Linked DNA regions of Homo sapiens: region 1 is linked to region 2. The links come from fine-mapping of genetic effects on gene expression. A gene starts in region 2. The other region holds a variant in brackets. All regions are shown on one strand. Distances are between the middles of the regions.

Region 1 (5,385 bases), 64 kb after region 2:
ACAGGAACAGAAGTCATCCATCTGCTCACCGGAGACTGAAGCATATTTGGCTGCTTCCTCTACTCTATGTTTACTTTCTTTCATGCAAAAACGCAGATTCACTGAGCAGACCAATGCCTCTGCCTGCTCCTTTCTTTTTGTTTTTTGTTTGTTCTTTTTGTTTTGTTTTGTTTTGTTTGTTTGTTTTGGTGGACTCTCGCTCTGTTGCCCAGGCTGTAGTGCAGTGGCAAGATCTCGGCTCATTGCAAGCTCCACCTCCTGGGTCTAAGCGATTCTCCTGCCTCATCCTCCTAAGTAGCTGAGATTACAGGCGCCCACCACCACGCCCCGCTAATTTTTGTATTTTTAGTAGAGCCGGGGTTTCACCGTGTTGGTCTGGCTGGTCTTGAACTCCTGACCTTGTGATCTGCCCACCTCGCCCTCCCAAAGTGCTGGGATTAAAGGCGTGAGCCACCACACCCAGCCTCTGCCCACTCCTTTCACATGTACAAGGTAAATTCAGTGAATGCTGATGAAAATCCCAAGAGAATGCAACCACTTGCTGCTTTTGTCTACACTGTTCTGTTTTGGTTCCTCCTTTCCCCTTCTACCTACTTTTTCCTCTTTTAAATACTGAAGCCCTCAAAATCATCTTTGGAAAAAGTATGGGCCGCAGATTCTACTGCAGCCTGTGTCTCTTTTTCCTGGGCGCATCCTCAATATTGGCAAAAATAAGCCTCTAATTGATGGAGACTGTCAGTCATTTCCTTTGGTTTCACAGCAGGGAAGGAGTTGAAAGAACAGCTTTACAGGAGAGAAACTGACAAACACTACCTCGATCCCAGTGATCAAGATGACCATCAAAGTCATAAGTCATGCAACAGCAGGCACCCTCTATGAGACATGATGAGAGGGAATTCTGTGGGCTTGCTTACCTCTGTTGTCTTTCTTTCCAAAATACATTATCCCAGGCTTGCCTCCCATTCTATTCAAAGTTATCCCTGTGCTCACTGAGGCAAAGGCATATCAGATTGCCTCCTTTGGAAAGGCTAATCAGAACCTCAAAACAGGCCGGGCAGTGTCTCAAGCCTGTAATCCCAGCACTTTGGGAGGCCAGGGTGGGTGGATCACTTGAGGTTGGGAGCTTGAGACCAGCTTGGCCAACATGGTGAAACCCCATCTCTACTAAAAACAAAATTAGCTGGGCGTGGTGGTGGGTGCCTGGAATCCCAGTTGCCCAGGAGGCTGAGGCAGGAGAATCCCTTGAACCTAGGGGGTGGAGGTTGCAGTGAGGCAAGATCGCGCCATTGCACTCCAGCCTGGGCGACAGAGCTAGACTTTGTCTCAAAAAAAAAAAAAAAAAATTAAAAGAATGCAACCGCTTCTCTCACCTATCTGTGACCTGGAAGCCCTCTCCCCGGCTTAGAGTCTTCCTGCCCCCGCTTCGAGTTGTCCCGCCTTTCCAGACCAAAACAGTGTATGTCTTATATCTATTGATTGATGTCTCTTGTCTCCCTAAAATGTATGAAATCAAGCTGTGCCCTGACCCCCTTGGGCACATGTCATCAGGACCTCTTGAGGCTGTGTCACAGTCGGGCATCCTCAACCTTGGTAAAATCAACTTTCTAAATTAACTGAGACCTGTCTCAAATTTTCAGGGTTCACATAGCCTAATCATGAAAAAGACACCAGACAAATTCCAATTGAAGGACATTCTAGAGAATACCTGACCAGAACTCCTCAAACCTGTCAAGATGATCAAAACCAAGGAAAATCACAGACACTGTCATGACCAAAAGGAGCCTATGGAGACACAGCTACTAAATATAATGTGGTTTCCTGGATGGGATCCTGGAAAGGTAAAAAGACACAAGGGGGAAACTGAGATAGTCTGATTTAAGCATTGATTTTACTTAATAATGATGTATCAATATTGGTTCATTAATTAGGGCAAATGTGTCATACTAATATAAAATCTTAATCATCAAAGAAACGGGGTTAGAGTATGTGGAAATTCTCTTTACTAACTTCACAATAATTCTGTAAATCTAAAACTGTTGTAAACAGGTTTATTTTTTTTTTAAATGTTCACACATGCCTCTGTTGGCAAAAGTCGACAGATGCCCCGCTGTGTGCACAAATGTCCTGTTGATGCTGCAGTCTCAATGACCAGCCTCACAATACAACTCAAACCTGTTATGCTTGTGACTCCTCCTAAAAGGCAAAGATTACAGTCCTGCTGAGTTTGGTGATTAATAGTCAGTATGCTTCCATGGTAAGGCTGTTCCGAGAATTTAGAAAAAGCATTTTAATCATCTGCCCACTCTCTCCTTTAAATGTGATTTATGGACTATGGATTTCAGTGTAGCAAAATCTTGAAAACAACAGCAAATTGTTCCTTCGAC[G/A]TGAGGCGTCATGGAGGGTGAGGCCCACAATTCTCAGAAACAAAGGGGAGATACAATTATTGGAAGAGAAGAATGGCATCATGTTGTTAGGATGGTCCTAGAACATAATTACTACCCCGAACTTTGTCCCCAGCCCTTTCCACTTACCCCAGTCCCAAAGAATCCAAAGAATTCATGAGAAATGTTGTCTCAAACTTTATTTTTTATTTTTTATTTTTTTTTTGAGATGGAGTCTCACTCTGTCCCCCAGGCTGGAGTGCAATGGTGCCATCTCAGTTCACTGCAACCCCCACCTCCCGGGGCTCAAGCAATTCTCCTGCCTCAGCCTCCTGAATAGCTGGGATTACAGGTGCATGCCACCATGCCCAGCAATTTTTTTGTATTTTTAGTAGAGACGGGGTTTCGCCATGTTGGCCAGGCTGGTCTCGAGCTCCTGACCTCAGGTGATTCGCCCTCCTCGGCCTCCCACAGTGCTGGGATTACAGGCGTGAGCCACTACTCCCAGCCATTCTTAAACTTTCTGAAACAATTAAAAGCACTGTTTCAAATAAAAAAAAGTTAAAGAAGAAATACATCTCAATCTCATTCATGTATTTGTAAGAATTGATTTTTCACTTTTAATATTTAAAACAAACCCTGGCCAGGAGGCTTGGCTCACGCCTGTAATCCTGGCACTTTGGGAGGCCAGGGTGGGTGGACCATGAGGTCAGGAGATCGAGACCAACCTAGCCAACATGGTGAAACCCTGTCTCTACTAAAATACAAAAACTTAGCCAGGCGTGATGGTGCACACCTGTAATCCCAGCTACGTGGGAGGCTGAGGCAGCAGAATCACTTGAACCCGGGAGGCGGAGTTTGCAGTGAGCCAAGATCGTGCCACTGCACTCCAGCCTGGCAATGCAGCAAGACTCCATCAAAACAACAACAACAACAAACCTATAAAGTGTAGTACTGATGAAAAAAGTCCATACAACCCTTCTTGAAGAGACTTTGAAAATGACCTCTGTGTCACTTGGGCGACATGTCTATCTTAAAGGATAGAGGAACAAAATAAGTCAAGACCTTATAACTGACCACAGGGAGGTTAAGGCCATCATCCCAAGTGGAGAAGATATTTTAACCGTGGAGCTTTAAGGCTTTTCACTGGTTCCCGACTGATTTGCTTTAAAACCAGGAACCTGCAAATGAATCCAACTGAATGATCAATTTATTCCATTATTGTATTTAATCAATTATTAAATGGCTGAAGTGCTTCTCAAACTCTTTTTTTCATGTATAACTCTTGCCCCTTCCCCCTCCTACTCTTGGAGCAGTTTTGCTCCTACATTTTTTTCTACCCCAGCTTACGTTATTTTTAAATGAAAATAGTTGGGCTTTCCTATAAACGCTAGCATAGAAAGAGCTGAGATATATGGTGTTAGACGCTGTGTAAGTGTAACATTTGTGCCAGGTGTGGTGGCTCACGCCTGTAATCCCAGCACTTTGGGAGGCCGAGGAGGGCAGATCACCTGAGGTCAGGAGTTCGAGACCAGACTGGCCAACATGGTGAAACCCCATCTCTACTAAAAATACAAGAATTAGCCAGGCGTGGTTGTGGGTGCCTGTAATCCCAGCTACTTGGGAGGCTGAGACAGGAGAACCACTTGAAGCTGGGAGGCGGAGGTTTCCGTGAGCCCAGATTGTACCACTGCACTCTTGCCTGGGCGACGGAGTGAGACCCTGTCTCAAAATAAAATAAAATAAAATAAAATAAAATAAATAAAATATCCCTTGAATCCTAGAAGCGGAGGTTGCAGTGAGCCAAGATAGCGCCATTGCACTCCAGTCTGGGCCTCACAGGGAGACTTTATCTCAATAACAACAACCAAAAAAAGTGTAACATTTGTGATAACGTCTGGGACTAAAGCAGGTACAGAGTGCAGAGCAGTAGTAGGACTCACACCCATGACAATAGAGACTAAAAAGCAAAAACGGAAATGCTATCCATTTACATGTAAAACGGCAATGATAGGAATAAGAGGGGGTATAAGATACAAGTGCTGGATAGAGGCTGAAGCAAAATTAAAACTGAGAAATTATCAGTAATTTGGCAAATGGAATTCACTTTAAAATTGATCTATTAGCAAAATAGCCTTTTGCAAACTGACCTGCTTCTCTTTTGATAATACCATACTCTCTTCTCGTGAGACCAAGTTAGATTGTTCTGAGCTTTACCAAGAATACATAACAAATTAATTGGGCAATAAACTTTTAAATAGCCATGCACATGATCCTATCTCTCATTTTCCCTACCAGTTTCCCGTGTGTCTTGAGTAAGAGCCCAGGACTGCTTGAGTTTAAATGTTCTGTCTGTTTAGGGGAGAAGAGAAAGAGAAGACAGGAGAGAGGAACTCCTTGCTTTTCCTACCTTCTGAATGAAATCAACTTACCAATAGTTAGGTCTGCTATCTTGCTTCAAACGACCCCCTTCTGACACCAGGAACCTCTTTAAAAGAATACTGTGATCTTTCAGTTATAAAATCATAGAGGAACTAGTAAAAACGAATGGAGGGTATGCTAGTGATCTGGGGCAACATCACCCTTACATTCTGTAGGCTAAATTCCAACATACTCGGAATAATAATATAAAGTCCTGAATAATATCATTGTATTCTACCCAGCAATATGTTGGACGGAAGAAGGAAAGGGAAGGAGAGAGCCAGAGAGAAAAGGAAGAAGAGAGGGGAGGATTTTGCGTTGAACTCTTGATATGGCCAACATAGAGCCTACCATTGTGGAGATTACAAGATACAATTTTCCCACCTTTTCTCTCGCCGGCCTTTCCTAGTGATACAGCTCCAGTGAGTGGAGGAACACCAGGGCTCTTGTTTCATGTCGAATTGTATAAAACGACATGGACACACGTGGAGTGGTTTTAAGGAGTGGAGAGTTTAATAGGCAAGAAAGAAGGGAGAAGAAAGAAGGAAGAAGCTCCCCTGTACAGAGCCAGAGCGGGGCGGAG
Region 2 (5,385 bases):
AGAACCGGTATAGTCTAGTGGCTGGGAATGAAGGCCAGAGTTCCTGGATTTGATTTCTGGAGTTATTAGCTGCGTGTCATTGACCAAGTTACTGCACCTCTCTGTGCTTCAGTTTTATTACTATATTACACACGCACATGCCCTTAGCATTTATGTCATGGCACTAATTAAGTGATGTATTAGTAATACACAAAAAAAACACTTAGAAAATTGTCTGACTGAGAGTAAACACTCAGTGAAAGTTATTACTGTGATCTCATGATACAAATATGATTAACGAGCTATTTAATCTTTGCTGCTTTCATTTCTTCAATTACAGTGAGATGTCCTGAGATATATTTGTTTATCCTTGTGCCATAAATTTCTAAACTGAACCAATCCTCCCTGTTCTACTGATGTTTATTTTCACCTCACATTAAGTAATGAATGTATTATGAAGCTAAAAATCATCCTTATGCAATTAAATTGATTCCAACTTTTGTTCTCCATGAATGGTAAAGATGACACGTTTGTGATAATCTACTGGATGTGTTATTATTCTCCATACCATTGTGGAGTGCATCCAAATTGCTTTTTAATTTGTCTCCCATGTTACAGCCTTGAAATCAGAAAATAACGTAATATACTGCAAGAAAACAACTTAATACATGCTAATGTGAAAAGAGGAGAAGATATACTTTGTACCCTATTGAAAACAACAGTGGCAGAGTAAATAGTTATGAGTATGTATAATACACTTAACTCTTGAACTACATTTAGCATCCAAGTGTGCTTCAATTTTTGAATAGAAAATAAAGATTTTCACTGATGGGCCCTATCAGGAGAAGGAAGTTATTTCTAGCACACGCAGTGAACATTAAGAAAGCTCAGTTCATAAGGATGGGAAAGTAGGGTTATGGAGCCGAGGGCCTCTTTACAGCCTTCTCTTTCATACTCCCGTAACACAGCACAGTGAAAATGAAACAGGGAAAATTTCTATGGAATTGTCTAGTATGTCCCCAGCCTGGGTTAGGCTTCCTCCAATTCTCCTGCTACTCCGCAAACCCTTTTTCTGTTTATAACTTTTTTTGGAGTTATAGCTGTCTCTACAAATCTCGTGAAAATTATCAATATTCCTCTTAGAAAAATGCACACACACACACACACACACACACACACACAATTTTGCATATTAATGTGTTATCTTCCGGAATGCTCTCTTGGAAAGAACTCATTTTTAATAAAGTGCTTTGCATTATCTTCAGTGAACGAGTAAATTACTATTTGAAAATAGAATTTGCCATTTGATTTTCTTTTTAAAAACATAGTATTTATAATCCTGACTTGTAACCCTCCCAGCAGATGTGAGGTAATTCACTTGTTTTGACTTACTGTGATCAGCATTTTGAAAAACACTTTAGGTGTTTCTAAAATGCTTAACTTGTGGAAAAATTTCATTTTTGTTAGGAAAGCATAGCAGGCATTTACGTATGCTGTCCTAGAAACATTTTATTATAGTTTTAACGGGAAATAAGCAAAGAGATAATATTATTTCTATATTTGTTCCTATTAAACAAACAGTAGTAACACACAGAATCTTGGTCATCACTCAGACTCTAAACCCAAAACATATTGCTTGGGAAAAATAGATGTACACATGTACATAGCTACTGTAATCATAGAAGAAATTTTTCAAAAGTATGAAGAGAAAGCCTTTTAAAACTCATCCTTAATGGATACATAAATAGAAATGCCAAGGAGTCAATCTATGAACTTCTATATCTATATTTTATATTTTAAGATTGGGACAGAGAAACTTCCCAGATATTTGACGTAAGAATTTGTTTTGAAAAAGTTTGGTAATTAATATAAAACTACTCTAAAATTAACTTTTATTGTTAGAGACACATCTTTAGAAAAGTTTGTAAATATCAACATTTACCATCTTATTTTTTCCTTTGAGACCAAGCATCACAGACCAAAAGCCACAAAGTTTACAATAATTTATTATTGTTGCATGACATTTGCCAGTAAAATAAATTATAGAAACTATAGAGTCTTTATAAACTATTTTGTATATCATATTCACTTCCTAATGCTTACTGCAGTAACTGTATGAAATTTAATTAGATTACGTTTTAGCATTAGTCAGAAGATTTAAAAAATATGTAAAATGTTTTCACAGTACTTTGGATTTATAAAAGACCCCATTATTTTAACTTTTGTGCAACCTGTTTGAAATGTATAAAAAACCTTTTACAAACCAAAAGGTGGCGTAAGGTTTTACTGAGTTGCTGAAGACATCTTACTTTCTTGAATTTCTACTTAACATCCATGTGGTGCACTTTTTCAGGCATTGTAATAAGTGCAAATAAATAATCAATTATTGATTTCTAAAAATCTATACCAATAGACAATACTCAGGCTTGGAAATATTTTGAACACTCAGATATAAAAATTCAGTAAACAATTTATGCATGGTATTTTCTCTCCCTGTCCTCCCTCTCCCTCCTCCCTTCCCCTATCTATTTGGTTAAAAAAAAAAAAAAAAGTTCAACTTCGATTTAAGTCCTAGGGCCTGACAAAGTGACCCTGGATAAATGTCATCTCCAGCCATCTGTTTTCTTTAGTTCTCATTACATCTGTCCAGGCTCTTCTATCAGCATCAATCCTTTCCTGCAGGGACGGAAGAGTTTTCAAATCCTTGCTGAAAGCATTTTGTTCTCCTCTGTAACAGCACAGGGCATGAAATTGTTTGGAGTCTTTGTAACCAGTCTGTTCAGTCCTGGTCCCTTTCCAGTCCCGGTCCCTTTCCAGCCTCTGGAGTCCTGACAGAAGAGAAGCTTGTAAGGTAGCAGCAAAATGCTGCATCTGTTAGAATCTCACAAACTCACTTGGTCTTTGAATGTCCATTCTTGGATAACGTCCTTATCCATCCTCTTCTCTTCAGTGAACTTTGATGGAATATTTCCGCAGTTTCAGAAACTGGAAAAGCTTGTCTTTTGTCCTCTTCTTCAAGGCCATCAGGGCACGCGTTTTCTCCTCCACATCTTGATCTATGGCAAAAATGATCTTGGCTCTCTCCTCTGCTTTCTTGTCTCCAGAGTTTCTGAAGAGCCTTTCTAGTGATTCTTGGTCTGTGTTTTCAAAGATGTTGCCCACGGCTTTCTTACGAGAGGCTGTGTCGAAGTGGTAGCCATGGATGGATGGGCTGACTCGTAGCGACGTGGACATGATGACGGCTTGGTGGCTTCGCTTTGCTTTCATCGATGTGGGGATCTTCCGGAATTCAGCTCCCAGGCTTTCCAGAGAGTCTGTAGTGAAATCATTCTGGGACTGCTATTTAAAGTGTGAACAAAAGCTCCAGGCTCAAATTACACTGGTGACATCAGAGTGATCTCAAGGAAGAATAATCACAGAAAGGCTTAACAGTTGAGTTGCCAATATCCTGTTCTTGTGTAAAACATTACTAAAAGCTGTGTTCAGTGATTAGGCGCAAGGCTGTGAGTACTCATTTTACTTCCTATGTGGCAGTAGGATAATACAGACCTGGGCCTTCCTTTAAGAAAATAGCTGAATACAGGAAAATGCAAAGATAAGACATAAACGAGGTTGCTTAGACTCTCAAATCTTCCCAAACGACAGTTAGAACAAGGGGTTCTGCTAACTACAGGAAAGCTTTCGTTCGCAGAGAAGTAATTAAAGTGCACTGCAAACATTTGGCAGTCCACATCAGTGCCCTTTGGACATCCATATCAGGGGCAACTCCAGAGCTACTGAGAGAAAGCTGAGCAATCAAGGATAATAATTTGGGGTGTGATCAATTCTAGGATGGGATTTTACATACAAAACGCTGACATGACACAGCTTGAAACGGTGACTTTTCAGAGATTGTGTACAAGTGCTAAGTGTCACTGAAGACCATTGTAATTTGGGTGTAGTAATAATATGAATAGTAGAGGCTATCTCCTTAGGCTTGTGTATACATCCACAACAATAGCTATCAAAAAAGCCAGCAGGAAAAGTTAATCAAGTGTTTTACGTGCACAGTGCCCAAAATGAACGAGGTGATCTTTTGTTTTCAAATTTATTTTGGCATTACCCAGACATAGAGCAATAACTTCTTTGGAAGCATATAAATGTGTTCTTCCTGTCTTCCACAATATTCAAGCCAGCCAGTGTCCTCACTGACCTATGGAGTTGTCATATGCTAAATGTGAGCTTCAAAGGGTCCTGGAGATTCTCTTTGTGGATCTTACGCCTGGTCCGCTTTCTAGTCCTTTAAGAAAGCAGGACAGGTCTTTTCGTTTTTCTTTTTATCTAGTCAAGTAAGATCTAGAAAATGCGCAAAGGGAGACACCGTGGGGAAGGTACCTCACTAGGAAATTAAGTTAGAGACTCTCCTTATATTTTAATTCATTCATTCACTTACTCGTTTATCCACTCATTTATTTAATCAATATTTATTAAAGGTGTGTTATTAGCCAGAACTTTTTGAGGCATTGGAAATGAAACAGAAAACCAAACAAAACCAACCTAACCAAACCATGCAAAGAATCCCTTTTTTACCTTAATGAAGTTTATGTTCTACTGGGAAATAGACAATAGAAACATACATTTATAATATATATCATGTCAGAGTAAGGAATATTATGAGTAAAAATGAAGCAGAGTTGTACAGGAGTGGAAGGAGAGGGTTGAGATTTTCCTAGGATATTCAGGCACAGCTTCTTGTAATGAGACATTGTGCAAAGACTTGAAGGTGGTGAAGGAGGCAGTCAGCTATATGGATATCTGTAGGAAGGGTGCTGCCAGAGAAGCAAGTGCAGAAGGTTGAAGAAAAGAGTGTGCAAAGAGTGTATGGAGAACAGCCAGGGACCAGTGTGGTCAGAGCAGAGTGAGCAGGGCAGAGTGGGAGGAGATGAGGTAAGGGCGAGTAGGCAGTGGAAAGAGGGCAGGAGCAGGCTGTGTGCAACCTCACAGGCTTTGATTGTGGATTTAGCTCGTACACTGTTAGGAGACAGGTGGGCTTTGGAGAATTTGGAGCAGAGAAATGGCATGGTTTTCCTTATAATTTTAAAAGCTTACTGACACTTCTTAGAAGAGAATAGATTTCAGGGAAGCAAGCAGGGAGTGGGGAGCAGGAAGACTAGTCAGGAGATGTTCAATAATCCAAGAAAGAGAGGATGAAGGCTTCCACTAGGGAGAATGTGGAGGTAGTGAGAACTGATCCAATTCTGGCATATTGTGAAGGTAAAGCTAAGACGATTGCTGAAAAATTAGATGCGAGGAATGAATAACAAACAGGAGCCCAGGCTGATCTCTTCTGAAGGATGCCTCCTTGAAAGACATTTCCAGGTGTGCCAGTGGTCAACTCTCCAACCATGCAGCTCATGTGTGTTCCAG

Which allele goes with the higher level. Positions count from the first base shown, and alleles are read on the strand shown. Sizes are in standard deviations (SD) of each study's normalised expression.
For the expression in tibial nerve of the gene that starts at base 3,297 in region 2, allele A in region 1 goes with a higher level than allele G (small effect, 0.17 SD a copy in GTEx).

Evidence for each region. PIP is the estimated chance that this variant, and not a neighbour inherited with it, causes the effect. A credible set is the group of variants that fine-mapping cannot tell apart.
Region 1: its variant is the best candidate, but not a certain one, in a credible set for the expression of TCIM in tibial nerve (GTEx, PIP 0.56).

What each region holds. Positions count from the first base shown.
Region 1 is chr8:40,087,801-40,093,185 of GRCh38, reverse strand. No RefSeq gene overlaps it. Among named protein-coding and RNA genes, the nearest start is that of LINC02866, 14 kb to the left of the region's middle. The variant G/A (reference allele first, on the strand shown) is at 2,385.
Region 2 is chr8:40,151,394-40,156,778 of GRCh38, reverse strand. TCIM (transcriptional and immune response regulator) reads right to left here and starts at 3,297. Exons shown (of 1, transcript NM_020130.5): 1 at 1,469-3,297. The coding sequence starts at 3,246. The coding sequence ends at 2,926. The region is part of intron 3 of LINC02866 (long intergenic non-protein coding RNA 2866); the gene reads right to left.